2 separate regions of the Homo sapiens genome follow, and region 2 is linked to region 1. Evidence: fine-mapped expression QTL. Tissue or cell type: cerebellum. Region 1 holds a variant in brackets; the other region holds the start of a gene. All regions are shown on one strand. Distances are between the middles of the regions.

Evidence for each region. PIP is the estimated chance that this variant, and not a neighbour inherited with it, causes the effect.
Region 2: it holds the start of TTLL1-AS1, and the variant in region 1 is fine-mapped to the expression of TTLL1-AS1 in cerebellum (GTEx, PIP above 0.99). The same link has a PIP of 0.9 or more in cerebellar hemisphere.

Annotation. Positions count from the first base shown.
Region 1 is chr22:43,072,713-43,080,801 of GRCh38, reverse strand. It overlaps TTLL1 (TTL family tubulin polyglutamylase complex subunit L1), which reads left to right. Exons shown (of 11, transcript NM_012263.5): 2 at 816-900; 3 at 5,212-5,328. The coding sequence starts at 5,216. Among named protein-coding and RNA genes, the nearest start is that of TTLL1, 13 kb to the left of the region's middle. RefSeq lists enhancers at 1,233-1,754, 1,755-2,277. The variant A/G (reference allele first, on the strand shown) is at 3,374.
Region 2 is chr22:43,035,391-43,043,488 of GRCh38, reverse strand. It overlaps TTLL1-AS1 (TTLL1 antisense RNA 1), which reads right to left and starts at 4,904. Exons shown (of 3, transcript NR_125362.1): 1 at 3,225-4,904; 2 at 2,188-2,278. It overlaps TTLL1 (TTL family tubulin polyglutamylase complex subunit L1), which reads left to right. Exons shown (of 11, transcript NM_012263.5): 11 at 3,584-3,973. The coding sequence ends at 3,713.

The DNA.
Region 1 (8,089 bases):
GCCAGCAAGGATGGCAGGAGAGGAGACAGAGGGTCTGGGGAGGGCACCTTAGCTCCATCCAGCTAAGGCTGAGAATGGCTCTCTGTGGAGGGAGTGACCTTTGAACTGTACCTTGAATGATTGGTAGGAGTTGGAGAAGAGGCAGTGCAGAGGGGCCGTTCCAGGTGGGGCACAGGGTGCACACAGGCTTGCAGGTGGGAGGAAAGGGTCGGGCAGGTGTGGGAAGGGGCTGAGCTCAGCTGGAGTGAGGGGTGTGTGACATGAGGGGTGGTATGGCAGCTTGAGAAGGCCAGCTGGAGCCAGTAAGTAATACAGTTCAGAAATTCTTACTGTAATGGGAAGACTCTTAAGAGCATCTTTTGGTGTACATTTGTTCAACAAGATGCCAGCCACTGAATATTCTGGCTAGTTACGGTTTTGTCATAGTATTCTTAAAATGGTTAAAGAGGCCAGGCGCGGTGGCTCACGCCTATAAATCCAGCACTTTGGGAGGCTGAGGTGGGCAGATAGCTAGAGCCTGGGAGTTTGAGACCAGCCTGGCCAACATGGGGAAACCCTGTCTCTACAAAAAATACAAAAATTAACCGGGTGTGGTGGCACTCGCCTGTAGTTGCAGCTACTTAGGAGGCTCAGGCAGGAGAATCACTTGAACCCGGGAGGCAGAGATTGCAGTGAGCCGAGATCATACCACTGCACTTCAGCCTGGTTGAGCAGAGTGAGAACCTGTCTCAAAAAAACAAAAACAAACAAAAAATGGTTAAAGAGTGTCTTCTTAATGTGTTTGATGTACATTTCATCTGTGTGTTAACTTTTAGGGAAGAAGGAGGGGCCGGCGTCAGTGACGTCAGCGAGACCGAGGTGAGCGTGGGCGTTGCCAGTGGTGCTCTGTCAGTGCCTATGGTAGGTACAGCCTGAGACGGCCCCTTAGGGACCATTTGCCCACACGGTGGGAGAGAGGGCGCGGGGCCTGGGAGGGACACCTGATGGTCTGGCTAAAGCACCTGCCCCAGTTGCTTAGTGAAATGTGGATGAGGATGTTTGGCCCGTCTGCCTCGGTAGGTTTGGGGTCTCACACCTGAAAGCGTTGAGGCCTGGGGAAGCACTGTGTGAGAATCGCGCACAGCCTTCCTGGTCTCCAGTCACTACTCTTCTGTCACCTCCAGGTAGATGTCAGTGGCTGGTGTGAGGTCACCCACTAAGATGCTTGCTTTAAGTACAACATGTGAACCATGCAGCCTGGACGGCGGTGGTTGGGGGGTGGTCCCCAGGCCGCAAGCAGGATTCATCAGGAAATCACAGCTGTGGAGGCTGAAATCACATAGTGAAAATGAAAAGTTCCCTGAGCCATTGGCGTGGCCCCGTGTCTGCGGGTGTGAGGGGTGTGGAATCGGCTCACGCTCTGGGATGCAGCTCCCGTGGTCCCCATGTCTTCGGGTGTGAGGGGTGTGGGATGGGCTCACACCTGGGGTGTGGCTCCTGTGGCCCCCGTGTCTGCAGATGTGAGGGGTGTGGGATGGGCTCACGCTCTGGGGTGCGGCTCCCTTGGCCCCCATGTCTGTGGGTGTGAGGGGTGTGGGATGGGCTCACGCTCTGGGGTGCGGCTCCCGTGGTCCCCGTGTCTGTGGGTGTGAGGGGTGTAGGATGGGCTCACGCTCTGGGGTGCGGCTCCCATGGTCCCCGTGTCTGCGGGTGTGAGGGGTGTGGGATGGACTCACGCTCTGGGGTGTGGCTCCCGTGGTCCCCTTGTCTGCGGGTGTGAGGGGTGTGGGATGGACTCACGCTCTGGGGTGCGGCTCCCGTGGTCCCCGTGTCTGTGGGTGTGAGGGGTGTGGGATGGGCTCACGCTCTGGGGTGCGGCTCCCGTGGTCCCCGTGTCTGTGGGTGTGAGGGGTGTGGGATGGGCTCACGCTCTGGGGTGCGGCTCCCGTGGTCCCCGTGTCTGTGGGTGTGAGGGGTGTGGGATGGGCTCACGCTCTGGGGTGCGGCTCCTGTGCTTTTATTGTCATCTTGGTGTGACTGCTGAGGTTCCACGTGCACCATATCGGATCACCTAACAGCAGTCCTTTATACAGCACCTTGTAGCTTGCAGAGAGCGGTTCTGTTTATTGCTCATTGACCCTGTGACCTGGGTGTTGTCATCATCCTGCCAAAGGCCAGGTTCACAGAGGGAAGTGATGGGCTGTGTGGAGAGAGGCGGCACTTTAGAGTAGTATCATCCCGGCTTTGAATCAGGGCACCCGGACTCCCTTGAGTCTGTTTCCTTTTCTTCTCTTCTCTTCTCTTTTGTTTTTCCTTCCTTTTCTTTTCTGACAGAGTCTTGCTGTGTCGCCCAGGCTAGAGTGCAATGGTGCGATCTTGGCTCACTGTGACCTCCGCCTCTCGGGTTCAAGCAATTCTCCTGCCTCAGCCTCCTGAGTAGCTGGGATTACAGGCACATGCCACCACGCCCAGCTAATTTTTGTATTTTTAGTAGAGACGGGGTTTCCCCATGTTGGCCAGGGTGGTCTTGAACTCCTGACCTCAGGTGATCCGCCCACCTCAGCCTCCCAAAGTGCTGGGATTGTAGACATGAGCCACTGCACCCAGCTGAGTCTGGTTCTTACACAGGCTCTTAACTGTTGAGCCTCAGCTTCCTCATTGGTGCAGTGGGGATGATGATGATAATAGTGAATGTCTCTTGAGTGCTTTTTTTTTTAAGACAGGGTCTCACTCTGTCCCCCAGGTTGGAGTGCAGTGGCGTCATCCTGGCTCACAGCAGCTTGACCTCCCAGATTCAAGTGATCCTCCTGCCTCAGCTTCCCAAGTAGCTGGGACTATTGGTGCATGCCACCACGCCCAGCTAATTTTTGTATTTTTTTGTAGAGATGGGGTTTTGCCATGTTGCCCAGGCTGGTCTCAAACTCTTGGGCTCAAGTGATCCGCCTGCCTCGGCCTCTCAAAGTGCTGGGATTATAGGCGTGAGCCACCGCGCCCGGCCAGAAGATTGTCTTAAGTACAACGTGTGAATTGTACAGGCCAGATGCCTGTGGTGTGGGGGTTGCCAGGGTGGGGAGGCAGCCTCCTGTAGCCTTCCTGGTTGGAGCCGGGGTGGGAGCCTTGAATCTTGGGCTGCCTGAGCAGTTTGAAAACGAGACTTTTCAGAGCAGACCGAGGTCCAGAGTCCTCCTGTAACTATGATAGCTCCGAGTCCCACAGTGGCGCTGACAGGCCTGGGACAGCAGCCAGTTTCTCCATCTGAACTGAGCATCCCTCACGTGCCAGGCATGGAGCTGGGCCCTGGGCACATGGCAGTGAAGAAGAAAGCAAGCCAGCTCCCTGGCCCCCAGCAGGGACAGCAGATGCTTGATACAGAGCTCCAGGGTTGCCGAGGGGT[A/G]CAGCACCTTGTTTGGAGGGTCAGGGAGGCTTTGTGGAGCAAGCGACATTCATTTATGCTGGCAGATGAGTGGGAGGCGGCTTAGCCAGGCAGAGATCGAGGGCAGCATGCTGCAGGCGGAGGGGCCCAGTGTGTGCGAGGCCTGTGGCAGGAGAGAGAGTGGGCAGAGAAGCCCAGCGTGGCAGAACAGAGGGTAAAGGAGAAGGTGGTGTGAGGTGTACCTGGGGAAGCAGGTGAGGGCCAGGGGTCTGTGTGTTTAAGTGCCCTGGGGAGTCATGGAGGTTATTAAATGGGAGTGATGTCGTCAGATAAACAATTTTTTTTTTTTGAGGTGGAGTCTCACTCTGTCACCCAGGCTGGAGTGCAGTGGTGCGATCTCCGCTCACTGCAATCTCCGCCTCCCGGGTTCACACCATTCTCCTGCCTCAGCCTCCCAAGTAGCTGGGACTACAGGCGCCTGCCACCGCACCCGGCTAATTTTTTGTATTTTTAGTAGAGACGGGGTTTTACTGTGTTAGCCAGGATGGTCTCGATCTCCTGACCTCGTGATCCACCTGCCTCGGCCTCCCAAAGTGCTGGGATTACAGGCGTGAGCCACCATGCCTGGCCCAGATAAACACTTGTTAAAAAATTATTTTATTTTTATTTTATTTGATTTATTATTATTATTATTATTTTGAGATGGAGTCTCGCTCTATCGCCCAAGCTGGGGTGCAGTGGCGCAATCTCTGCCCACTGCAACCTCCACCTCCCAGGTTCAAGTGATTCTCCTACCTCAGCCTCCCGAGTAGCTGGGATTACAGGCGCATGCCACCATGCCTGGCTAATTTTTTGTATTTTTAGTAGAGACAGGGTTTCACCGTGTTAGCCAGGATGGTCTCAATCTCCTGACCTCATGATCTGCCCACCTTGGCCGCCCAAAGTGTTGGGATTACAGGCGTGAGCCACCGCGCCCGGCCTATTTTTATTTTTTGCGATGGAGTCTCGCTCTGTCGCCGAGGCTGGAGGGCAGTAGTGCGATCTCAGCTCACTACAACCTCTGCCTCCCGGGTTCAAGCGATTCTCCTGCCTCAACCTCCCGAGTAGTTGGGATTACGGGTGCGCACAACCACACCCGGCTAATTTTTGTATTTTTAGTAGAGATGGGGTTTCACCACATTGGCCACGCTGGTCTTGAACTCCCAACCTCAGGCGATCCGCCTGCCTCGGCCTCCCAAAGTGCTGGGATTACAGGCATGAGCCACCACGCCCAGTCCAGATAAACACTTACGGTCACTCTGCAGTTACAGAGGGTGACTTGAAGTAGGGAGACAGGCAGTGCCTGGAGGGATGTGGGACAGGCATGCTGATCCCCACTCACCCATCGGAAGTCGGCCCGAGGGTCCCCTTCTCAGGGTGGCCCTCCCCAGCTGCCCTGTCTGCGGCTCTCAGAGCCCCATGTGCCCCTCCTTTGTGGCTCCTGGCACACTTGCAGTTGAACATTCCCGGGTGGTGATTTGATGGCTGCCTCTATCTCCCACCAGACCAGGGTTTCTCAGCCTTGGCACAGTTGACATTTGGGGCTGGATAATTGGTTGTGAGGGGTCATCTGTGCAGTCGGACATCGAGCAGCATCCCTGGCCTGGACATGCCCGATGCCAGAGGCATCCCCTGGTCATGACAACCAGACTCTCTAGACATTGCCAGGTGTCCCCTGGGAGATGGAATCACTCCTGGTTGAGAACCATTGCCGGGGTAAGATCGAGTTTGGGATGGGCATGCTGTTTAGAGGATTCCTTGGGTTTAAAGGGAAGTGAGCTGTTGAAGTTTCATATCTCTAATATTTTGATCTCTTCCAGGATTATGGCAGGGAAAGTAAAATGGGTCACTGATATCGAGAAGTCAGTGCTGATCAATAACTTTGAAAAGAGAGGATGGGTCCAAGTGACAGAAAACGAGGACTGGAATTTTTACTGGTAAGCATACACAGCAGGGCTGGGTTGTTTCTCTGAGGCTTACGTATCGGTTTTACTAATTCCAGTGCCTCCCAGAGAGTGGCCTCAGAGCCACTGTCTCCTGTCATTGTGCCATCTCCCCGCACACATTTTTCCTTAAGGTTTTTTGTGAGAGTATGTGTTGTGGTGTGTTCCCACATCACTGTGTTCACCCTGGGGTATGAAGTCCGGGGTGTTTCAGCACAGCAACCCTGTGGGGAGTTTGGGTGAGAAACAAGAGCCTCAGCCCTCCCCTTCCAGTGAGCGTGCGTTATAGCTGGGCCAGAGGACAGGACAGAGTCTTGCTCTGTCACCCAGGCTGGAGTGCAATGGTGCGATCTCAGCTCATTGCAATCTCTGCCTCCTGGGTTCAAGCGATTCTCCTGCCTTAGGCTCCCAAGTACCTGGGATTACAGGCGCCACCACACCTGGCTAATTTTTTTGTGTTTTTAGTAGAGACGGGGTTTCACCATGTTGGCCGGGCTGGTCTTGAACTTTGTGATCCACCCGCCTCGGCCTCCCAAAGTGCTGGGATTACAGGTCTAAGCCAAGCGCCTGGCCACATTTTTTTCTTTTTTTGTAGAGACAGGGTCTTGCTATGTTGCCTAGGCTGGTCTTGAATTCCTGGCCTCAAGGGACCTTCCCATCTCGGCCTCCCAAAGTGCTGGGATTACAGGCATGAGCCACCATGTCCGGCCATGAATAAGAAGCAGTTTGGAGTTATTCTTTTTTTCTTTTTTGGTCATAAAGCTGCTGTTTATTTATTTATTTATTTATTTCAGAGGCAGAGTCTTCCCATGTTGCCCAGGCTGGTCTCAAACTCCTGGACTCAAGTGATCTTCCCACTTCAGCCTCCCAAAGTGTTGGGATTACAGGCGTGAGCCACTGTACCCAGCCTTCGGAGCTATTCTCAACAACAGCAAAAAATGGAATGAAATGAAGAAAAAGGCTAAACAGTGTAATAGTCTTGGCTAATTGATACATATATTTTTTTTTCTTTCTTTCTTTCTTTTTTTTTTTTTTTTTTTGAGACGAAATTTCGCTCCTGTCACCCAGACTGGAGTGCCATGGGGCAATCTCGGCTCATTGCAACCTCCACCTCCTGGGTTCAAGCGATTCTCCTGCCTTAGCCTCCCTAGTAGCTGGGATTACAAGCATGTGCCACCACGCCTGGCTTATTTTGTATTTTTAGTAGAGACGGGGGTTTCTCCATGTTGGTCAGGCTGGTCTCGAACTCCCGACCTCAGGTGATCCGCCCGCCTTGGCCTCCCAAAGTGCTAGGATTACAGGCGTGAGCCACTGTGCCTGGCCAAGCTAATTGATATTTTGAGAGCTCTTGTTCTGGCCGTCATGCCCGTAATCCCAGCACTGTGGGAGGCCAAGGCCGGTGGATCACTTGAGGCCAGGAGTTGGAGACCAGCATGACCAACATGACAAAACCTTGTCTCTACTAAAAATACAAAAAAACTAGCTGGGTGTGGTGGTGCCTGCCTGTAATCCCAGGAACTCGGGAGATTGAAGCAGGAGAATCGCTTGAACCCAGGAGGTGGAGGTTGCAGTGAGCTGAGATCGCGCCACTGCACTCCAACCTGGGTGACAGTGAGACTCTGTCTCAAAAAAAATAAATAAATAAATAAATAAAAAAGAAGAGCTTCTGTTCTAAGCACTAAATGTACAATCAGGTTTACAGAAAAATTGGTTGGGGTAAAATACTGGAAACAACTAAATGTTAAACAGTATGGGGGGGTGGGTTAAGTACTTTGAGTGGATTATGGTGCAGCCGTTAAAATAATTATGATGGGCTGGGCACAGCGGCTCATGCCTGTAATCCCAGCACTTTGGGAGGCCAAGGCGGGTGCATCACCTGAGGTCAGGAGTTGGAGACCAGCCTAGCCAACTTGGTGAAACCCCATCACTACAAAAATACAAAAATTATCTGGGTGTGGTGGTGCGCACCTGTAATCCTAGCTGCCCGGGAGGCTGAGGCAGGCAAATGGCCTCAACCTGGGAGGCAGAGGTTGCAGTGAGCTGAAATCACACCACTGCACTCCAGCCTGGGTGACAGAGTGAGACTGTACCTCAAAAAATAAAATAAATAAATAAATAAATAAATAAATAAATAAATAAATAGACCGGGCGCAGTGGCTCACACCTATAATCTCAGCACCTTGGGATGCCCAGGCAGGTGGATCACCTGAGGTCAGGAGTTTGAGACCAGCCTGGCCAACCATGGCCAACATGGTGAAACCCTGTCTCTACTAAAAATACAAAAATTAGCTGGGCTTAGTGGCAGGCGCCTGTAATCCCAGCTACTTGAGAGGCTGAGGCAGGGAGAATTGCTTGAACCCAGGAGGCGGAGGTTGCAGTTAGCTAAGATCGCACCACTGCACTCCAGCCTGGGCGACACAGCAAGACTGTCTCAAAAAAAAAAAAAGAATAATTGCAATGAATTGAAACTTATCATATGTATTTGAATTTATAAGTTCATACAACTGCAAACAGAAAAATACCCCAAAAGCCACATACCCAATTTGTGGCAGATTAAAGATGGCCACAGGCCAGGGCATAGAACTCTTGGGCACAGTGGCTCATGCCTGTAATCCCAGCACCTTGCGAGGAGTTTGAGACCAGCCTGGGCAGTATACTGAGACCCTGTCTCAAAAAAATTAGCTGGGTGGTGGGGTGCCTGGGTGCAGTGACTCATGCCTGTAATCCCAGCCTTTTGGGAGGTGGAGGCAGACAG
Region 2 (8,098 bases), 37 kb after region 1:
TCGGGGCTGGGTCCTGATGGCCCCTGTGCTGGAGGACTGAGGGGGTCTGTGAGTGTGTACAGGGTGGGGACCATTGCGGGGAGACTTGTCAGTAGCATGAGGACCTTGGGGGGTTCTCTTCAGTCCAGTTGAGGGTGGTGGAGAGGCTGGCTTGTTGGGAGCGTGTAGAGCCTCTGCCGCGTCCAGCCTGTGGACTTCTTGAGGGAGTGGGCCAGACTCGCCATTTCCCGGCCAAGAAGCAGAGGCCAGGCTGGGTATGGTGGCTCATACCTGTAATCCCAGCACTTTGGGAGGCCAAGGCAGGTGGCTCACCTGAGGTCATGAGTTCAAGACCAGCCTGGCCAACATGGTGAAATCCCGTCTCTGCTAAAAATACAAAAATTAGCCGGGCGTGGTGGTGGGCACCTGTAATCCCAGCTACTTGGGAGGCTGAGGGCAGGAGAATGGCTTGAACCCAGGAGGCGGAGGTTGCAGTGAGCCGAGATCGTGCCACCGCACTCCAGCCTGGGCGACACAGCGAAAGTCTGCCTCAAAAAAAAAAAAAAAAAAAGAAAAAGCAGCAGAGGCCAGAGCCTCACTGCTTTTAGTTGAAGAGACAACAAGGTGAACCCCCCTCCCTGATCCAGCCGTCCTCTCCTGGCTCCTGAGGAGTAATGGAAGGCTCTTGTGTGGAGCTGATGGCCTCTAAACGCTTCTAGTCAGGGCTTGCTTCCCTTAGGCATTCAGCTGATCAAAGAACCCCAGCTCCATTTTCAGGTGCAGCCACCAGCAGCAGTAGCAGTTGGTGCTGACTGGGAGGGCCACGTCATCTGAGCGGCGCCGCCCGTCCATGCCAGGTGCTCTGCGTGCCCACAGCAACTCCTCAGAGCCCAGCAGCATCTAGCAGAGGACACTGGCCGCATGAGGTCACGTGCCCCAGGCCATACCATTGGCTGTGGCCCTACAAGGCCTGGCACTTTGCATCTGCCACCTCCAGGACCCTGTTCCGAAGTTGCTGACTGTACTTTTACAGCCTTTAAAAAACCCTAACAGTGACTAGATTGTTTCTGTGAAAAGCCAGAAGAAAAGCCTGCTAGAACAGGAACTTCGAAGAGCCATCTTGGCTCTGATTCTCCTCTGCGTTGGCTCGGTAGGTGGCCAGACCACCCCTGGGAACAGCGCATCCCGGTGCCAGCTGCTTGCCAAATGCTCCTTTCTGTTTGTTTTGTTTTTTGAGCCACACAGATCAGCACAAGTGCTCCGTGAAACCGGTCACCATATGTGGTCCTTTTCTCCATTCATTCAGTAGATTCCTATCCACCAGACCTTGAGCAAGCTGCTGGGGGCAGCCACGAACCAGACGGGCGGTCACTGCAGCCCCCTGGCCAGGGAAGCAAACACGGGGGCAGTGGAGTGACGACATTTATGAATGTGGAGTCCCCACGGGGTAGGGGTATCTGATCCTGTGGAGAGGCGCCAGGGAGGCTTCCTGGAGGACCCCCCCCACCCAGGCAGATTCCAGAGTTCCAGGGGTGTCCTGTCCGGCTTCCTTGTGTCATAGGGACTATGGCTGTGTCTCTCCTTCGAGAGCCAGAGAGGAAGCAGGCCCCTGTATCATCATCCTGACAGCTCCACCCTGGTGCAGAGCCTGGATCCCTGTGGTGTCTGCTTCACAGACAGAAGTCAGAAAATGCGGCCAGGCGCAGTGGCTCACACCTGTAATCCCAGCACTTTGGGAGACCGAGGCAGGAAGATTGCTTGAGCTCAGGGGTTCGAGGCCAGTCTGGGCAACATGGTGAAACCCCATCTCTACCAAAAATACAAAAAGTTAGCCGGGCGTGGTGGCATGCGCCTGTAATGCCAGCTACTTGGGAGGCTGAGGCATGAGAATCTCTTGAACCCAGGAGGCAGAGGTTGCAGTGAGCCAAGATCGGGCCACTACACTCCAGTCTGGGTGACCGTTTAAAAAAAAAAAAAGGAATCAGAAAATGCTTTCTTCCCACCTACTCTTTCAGTCCCAGTTTGCCACCAGAAGCACAATGCAGAAAATACATTCTTTAACCTCAGAAGTTTCTAACTCATACTACATTCAACCTGCAAACTCTGGTTTTGGTAATAAGCTTATCACAGAAATCCACCCTTTTCCAGAAGTCCACATGATTAGCACTCAGCATCTGGGTACCTTTTGTGTTTGACACAAATACCTACATACAACCGAGGGTCCTAGTCAGGATGGCCAGCGCAGCACACCGACGGATGTGCTTTAACTGGGGAAAGATGCTTTCCACACTCCTCAGCGCTATGGGACAAAAAACTCCGAATTAGAAATCAGAAGTCCTAGAGGTTAATCTTACCTGTGCCACAGGCCAGCTGTGGGACCCTAGGCCCTGAGCAAACCTCTAGAACCCCAGTTTCCCCCCATAGGAAGCAAGTCCTGGTGCTGCCGCCCGAGTTGGGAGGATAATGTCAGTCACCGTGGAGGGGGGCGGCCCCATTCCCCCAGCCTGCTCCCTGCCACAGCCTGCAATAGGTGCAGGCAGCAACGACCATGCTCCAGGACCCCGTGAGAGAAGGGCCCCGCCACTGTGGGAAGGACCCAGGACTTGCCCAGATGCTGTGACCACCCCGTCTGGGGAGCTGCAGCTGGCATCCAGCTCTTCCAGACACGAAAATTCAGGCTGTTTCCTACACTGCTGCCTCCTTAGCACACGCGGCCTTAGGATGCATGAACGTTAATTGGGAAACAGGCAGTTAAAGAAAATGGGGGCCAGGCACGGTGGCCCACGCCTGTCATCCCAGCACTTTGGGAGGCCGAATGGGCAGATCACCTGAGGTCAGGAGTTCGAGACCAGCCTGGCCAACATGGGGAAACCCTGTCTCTACTAAAAATACAAAAATTTGCTGGGTGTGGTGGTGGGCACCTATGATCCCAGCTACCTGAAAGGCTGAGGCAGGAGAATCGCTTGAACCAGGGAGGTGGAGGTTGTAGTGAGCCAAGATTGCGCCACTGTATACCAGCCTTGGTGATAGAGTGAAACTCCATCTCAAAAAAAAAGAAAATGGGGAGGGGTGGCGTGGGTCACACTGGCAGAGTCTCTAGCTGAGTGTGCACCGTGGGGCCTCTCTGCCCTGGCCTCCACTGACCAGTGCTCATGTACCACTCCCATCTGGAATGGAGTTAGTCCCCCCAGCCTGCAGGTGCCTTGTGTGAAGCGTTTCCAGCCAGGCAGTCTCACCTCACTTACCCTGGGCTGGTTCTGTGTCACCTCATGCATGTTGCCTTTGGAGTCATTGCCATATTTGACCTGGTGACCTGTATAAAATGTCAGCTTCCGAGGGGAGACCACTGTCCACAATAACAACAAGGTTGTACACATAGGCAGGCTGGCCTTGGGGAGCATTTGCTGGGCTGCGAGAGCCACCTGGCAGGCAGGTGGGCTGGAGCCAGGTGGGAGGTGGGCGGGAGCCAGCAGGAGTCGCGAGGGTGGGGCCCCCTCAGGCCGCTTCTCTGGGTGATGTCATATTTGCCACACAGCAGCCTGGTGGCCCTGCCTGTTGCCTTTGAAAGAGAGCCTGCCGTGATCCTGGCTGTTTCTGTCTCCAGGTATGATGAAGAATTGGCCCAGGGTGACGGGGCTGACCGGGAGCTGAGAAGCCGTCAGGGTCAGTCTCTGGGGCCCAGAGCAGGCCGATCGAGAGACTCGGGGAGAGCGGTCCTCACCACCTGGAAGTGAGTCCCACCTGGACCTTATCAAAACTACTCACTCCACCTGGGCCCCTGCTGAAGCCCTATTTTGAAATTTCCCTTTTGTAGAGCTTTTTTCCTTTCCTAAGCCCTGTAAATAAACGAAGGCACTTCTTTGGAAGGTTATGGAGTCTGTTTGACTAGTGCTAAAGGAAACAATTCATGCGGATGTATAAAACTCGCTCTTTTTTTTTTAATTTTTAACCTAAGCAGAATTTTCATATTAAAAACTCACTTTTTTGACAGAAAGTAACAGCTTCAAGCATGTAATTTGATGTGTCACAAGGTTTAAACATTAAAAAAACTTTACACTAAATTAAAAACAAAACAAATCTTATAGACTCGTCCTGCCACGAGAGAGGAATGTATTTAACTGACGGCTCTTTTAGTTGCGTTTCTTTTTACTTGACTGCGATTTTTTTTTTTTTTCCCGAGACAGAGTTTTGCTCTGTCGCCCAGGCTGGAGTGCACTGGCACAATCTTGGCTCACTGCAACCTCTGCCTCCTGGGTAGTATTTCTCCCACCTCAGGCTCCCAAGTAGCTGGGATTACAGGCGTGTGCCACCACACCTGGCTAATTTTTGTATTTTTAGTAGAGATGGGGTTTTGACCATGTTGGGCAGGCTGGTCTCAAACTCCTGACCTCAGGTGATCTGCCCACCTCGGCCTCCCAAAATGCTGGGATTACAGAGGTGAGCCACCACGCCCAGCTTACTTGACTGTGATTTTGAAGAAAACAGGCAACTAGAAATATTCCTCGGTAATTTATCTTTACAAAGGCCTTTGTCTAGGTGCTCCCAGGAAGACCTGTTTTCTTTTCTTTTCTTCTCTTTTCTTTTTTTTTTTCTTTTCAGACAGGATCTCGCCCTGTCACCCAGGCTGGAGTGCCGTGGTGCCATTGTGGCTCAACTTCCTGGGCTCAAGTGATCCGCTCACCTCAGCCTCCCGAGTAACTGGGACCACACAGGCACACACCACCACCCCCAGCTACTTTTTAAAGTTTTTTTTGTAGAGACAGAGTTTCACCATGTTGGCCAGGCTGTTCTCGAACTCCTGGGCTCAAGCGATACTCCTGCCTAAGCTTCCCAAAGTGTTGGGATTACAGGCATGAGCCACCACGCCTGGCTTCAAAAAGACCTGTTTCTACCACTTCGGTTTTGTGGATGAGTCTGTTGTAAATGGAACTAGATGAGCACAGACAGGTCCGGCTGTGTGCCTTTTATGACGTCAGCAGCTGGGTTTGCTACAGGGAAGCGCCGTGGGCAGCCAGGAGCTGTGGGAGGAGCGATGGCTGCGGGACAGGCTGCGCGAGCGTGGTTGTTCCCATGCAGTCTCCCGGTAGCCCGGTGACTTACAGGAGTGTATGGAGAGGACCTGAGTTGGTGGGTAGATGGACAGATGCATTTGAGTAATAACTCATGAGTTACAGTGCTGTTCTTAGGAAGGGTCTTTTTTTTTTTTTTTTTTTTTGAGGTGGAGTTTCACTCTTGACACCCAGGCTGGAGTGCAATGGCACAATCTAGGCTCACTGCAACCTCCACCTCCTGGGTTCAGGCGATTCTCATGGCTCAGCCTCCCAAAGAGGTGGGCTTACAGGCGCCTGCCACCACGCCCAACTAATTTTTGTATTTTTAGTGGAGACGGGGTTTCACCATGTTGGCCAGGCTGGTCTCGAACTCCTGACCTCAGGTGATCCTCCCGCCTCCGCCTCCCAAAGTGCTGAAATTACAGGCGTGAGCCACTGCGCCCGGCCAGGAAGGGCCTTTTACTCATGGTCGTATTAACACGTATTTGCTGAAGTTTCACTCGCTGTCTTGAGTTTATCTTTAAAGCTTGCCACCTGTTTTTGTTGCAATGCTAGTAACAGGAGTTTGTTCTCCCAAATGGCACCAAGGGTATGTCCTTCAGATAAGGGTCTTAACTGACTTGCCCAGGCTCTCTCAGTGCCCATGCATGGACGTGTGTCAAGTGTACATGCCATATTGTGTGTGTGTATATGAGTACATATATTTAATGATGTTTCACTGCCAATTAGGGAAAAATAGGTCTTTTCAACACAAATGGTACTTGGCTGGACTCCAAATAAACTACAATTGGTGGGCTTTTCAGCCATTCCTTCTTCGTGATCTTATTGGTATGTGTGTTGTGTGTGTTCCCTGGTGTTTAAGTTTTGTTTTGTTTTGTTTTGTTTTTGAGACAGAGTCTCGCTCTGTCGCCCAGCAGGCTGGAGTGCAGTGGCGCAACCTCAGCTCACTGCAATCTCTGCCTCCCGGGTTGAAGTGATTCTCGTGCCTCAGCTTCCCAAGTAGCTGGGATTACAGGTGTACACCACCATGCCCGGCTAATTTTTGTATTTTTAGTAGAGATGGGGCTTCACCATGTTGGCTAGGCTGGTCTCAAACTCCCAGCCTTAGGTGATCCGCCTGCCTCAGCCTTCCAGAGTGCTGGGAATACAGGTGTGAGCCACTGCGCCCAGCCGTGGGGTTTAGTTTTAATGTGTTTGCTGTTGATGGCGGGTGTGGGATGGAGATCCCCGAGTCAGACTTGGCCTTGTGGCCTGGCTCTGCTGTTTATTAGCTGTTTCCCAAGCCTGTCCCTGGGGTCGTTGCACCTTTGTTTCCCACTGTATAAAATGGGGAGTTCTGTGGCCGGGCGCAGTGGCTCATGCCTGTAATCCCAGCACTTTGGGAGGCCGAGGAGGGTGGATCATCTGAGGTCAGGAGTTCGAGACCAGCTTGGCCAACATGGTGAAACCTCATCTCTACTAAAAATACAAAAATTAGCCTGGAGGCTGAGGCAGGAGAATCGCTTGAACCCAGGAGGCGGAGGTTGCGGAGAGCCGAGATGGCGCCATTACACTCAAGCCTGGGCAATAAGAGCGAAACTCCGTCTCAAAAAAAAAAAGGGGGGGAGTTCTGTTTGCCTCAGAAACAACCAGTACCACCGCACAGGGACCCTGCCCGCACGCCTTGCTGGCTCTGGCGAGCCCTCTTACCTCCCAGGAGGGGGTGTCCTCTGCACAGCTGGCGGCTCCACCTCGGCTCCTACACGCAGAAGTGAAAGACACCCCGTTAACTGTTCCCAGCTCTTCCACCGGTTTTTACAACCCGGTTCTCAGTTACATTGTGTTGTTTTTGCCTCCCTCTGGGAGAAGGGTGGAGTCCCTGGTTGGGAACGTTGGCCTCTGAGGCTCCGGGGCCACGCAGTCCTAATGGAAGAGTCACACCAAGTGGTTAGTTTGCTGGTGACCCAGTTGCTAGGTGAGAGTGAGGCTCTGCTAAGTGGATTTATGTCATATAGTGACTGTCTCATTAATGATTTAGTGATGTCATGTTCTGGGCAGATGTTTCCTCTGAGCACTTCCAGGACACGGGTGGGAAGGGTGCGGTGTTGGCAGCAGGCCTCGGGAGGCTGTCGGGCCAGGAACAGCCCCATTCAGCGCTAGGCTGGGGCTAAGCAGTGAGCCCTGCTGGGAGCTGTCCGGGAGCCGTTGCTGTTTTCTTGTCAGCCCCCACACACTTGATGGGGTGGGTCCCAGGCCAGAGGGTTGCATCCTGTGGTCGTTTTCACCAAGTTTGATAGGCTTGGTTTTCCCAATATAAACCCATCCTCGACTGGGCACAGTAGCTCACGCCTGTAGTCCCAGCACTTTGGGAGGCTGAGGTGGGTGGATCACCTGAGGTCAGGAGTTTGAGACCAGCCTGGCCAACAAGGTGAAACCCCGTCTCTACTAAAAATACAAACATTAGCTGGGCTTGGTGGTTCATGCCTGTAATCCCACCTACTTGGGAGGCTGAGGCGGAAGAATCACTTGAACCCAGGAGGCGGAGGTTGCAGTGAGCCGAGATCGCACCATTGCACTCCAGCCTGGACAACTGAGCAAGACTCCATCTCAAACAAAAGAAAACCACCATCCTTCACCTCCTTTGCACACGGGCTGCTCCCCGGGTATTAGTGAGGGCCTGGTGACAACCTTCTCACTGTCTCCCTTCTCCTCCTCCGCCTCCCACCTGGGCTGCCATGGAGACCCCATCAGTCTGGACCCGCATCTGGTTGCGCTCCACCAGCTGCTAGGACTTTCCTCACAGGGGGCCATTTCCCCTCCACACAGTGGTTCTTCAGGGTGCTCCATAAAGCCTCCTATGCTTGCCACCCATTGGCCTGTTGGCTCACACTGCCACACACCATGTCCACCAGTGCCAAACACACGCAGCTCCTCTCTGAGTGCCCCCAGGGGCCAGCGCACTCTCCACCCTCCCCTCTGGAGCCATTCCCAGCTGTGCTGCGGCCGCCTGGCCCTCTCCCCGCAGCAGCCCTGCAGCCCCTGTGGTCTGGGGAGGCCAAGGTCTCCTGCAGGGCCCTGCCTGCTGGTAA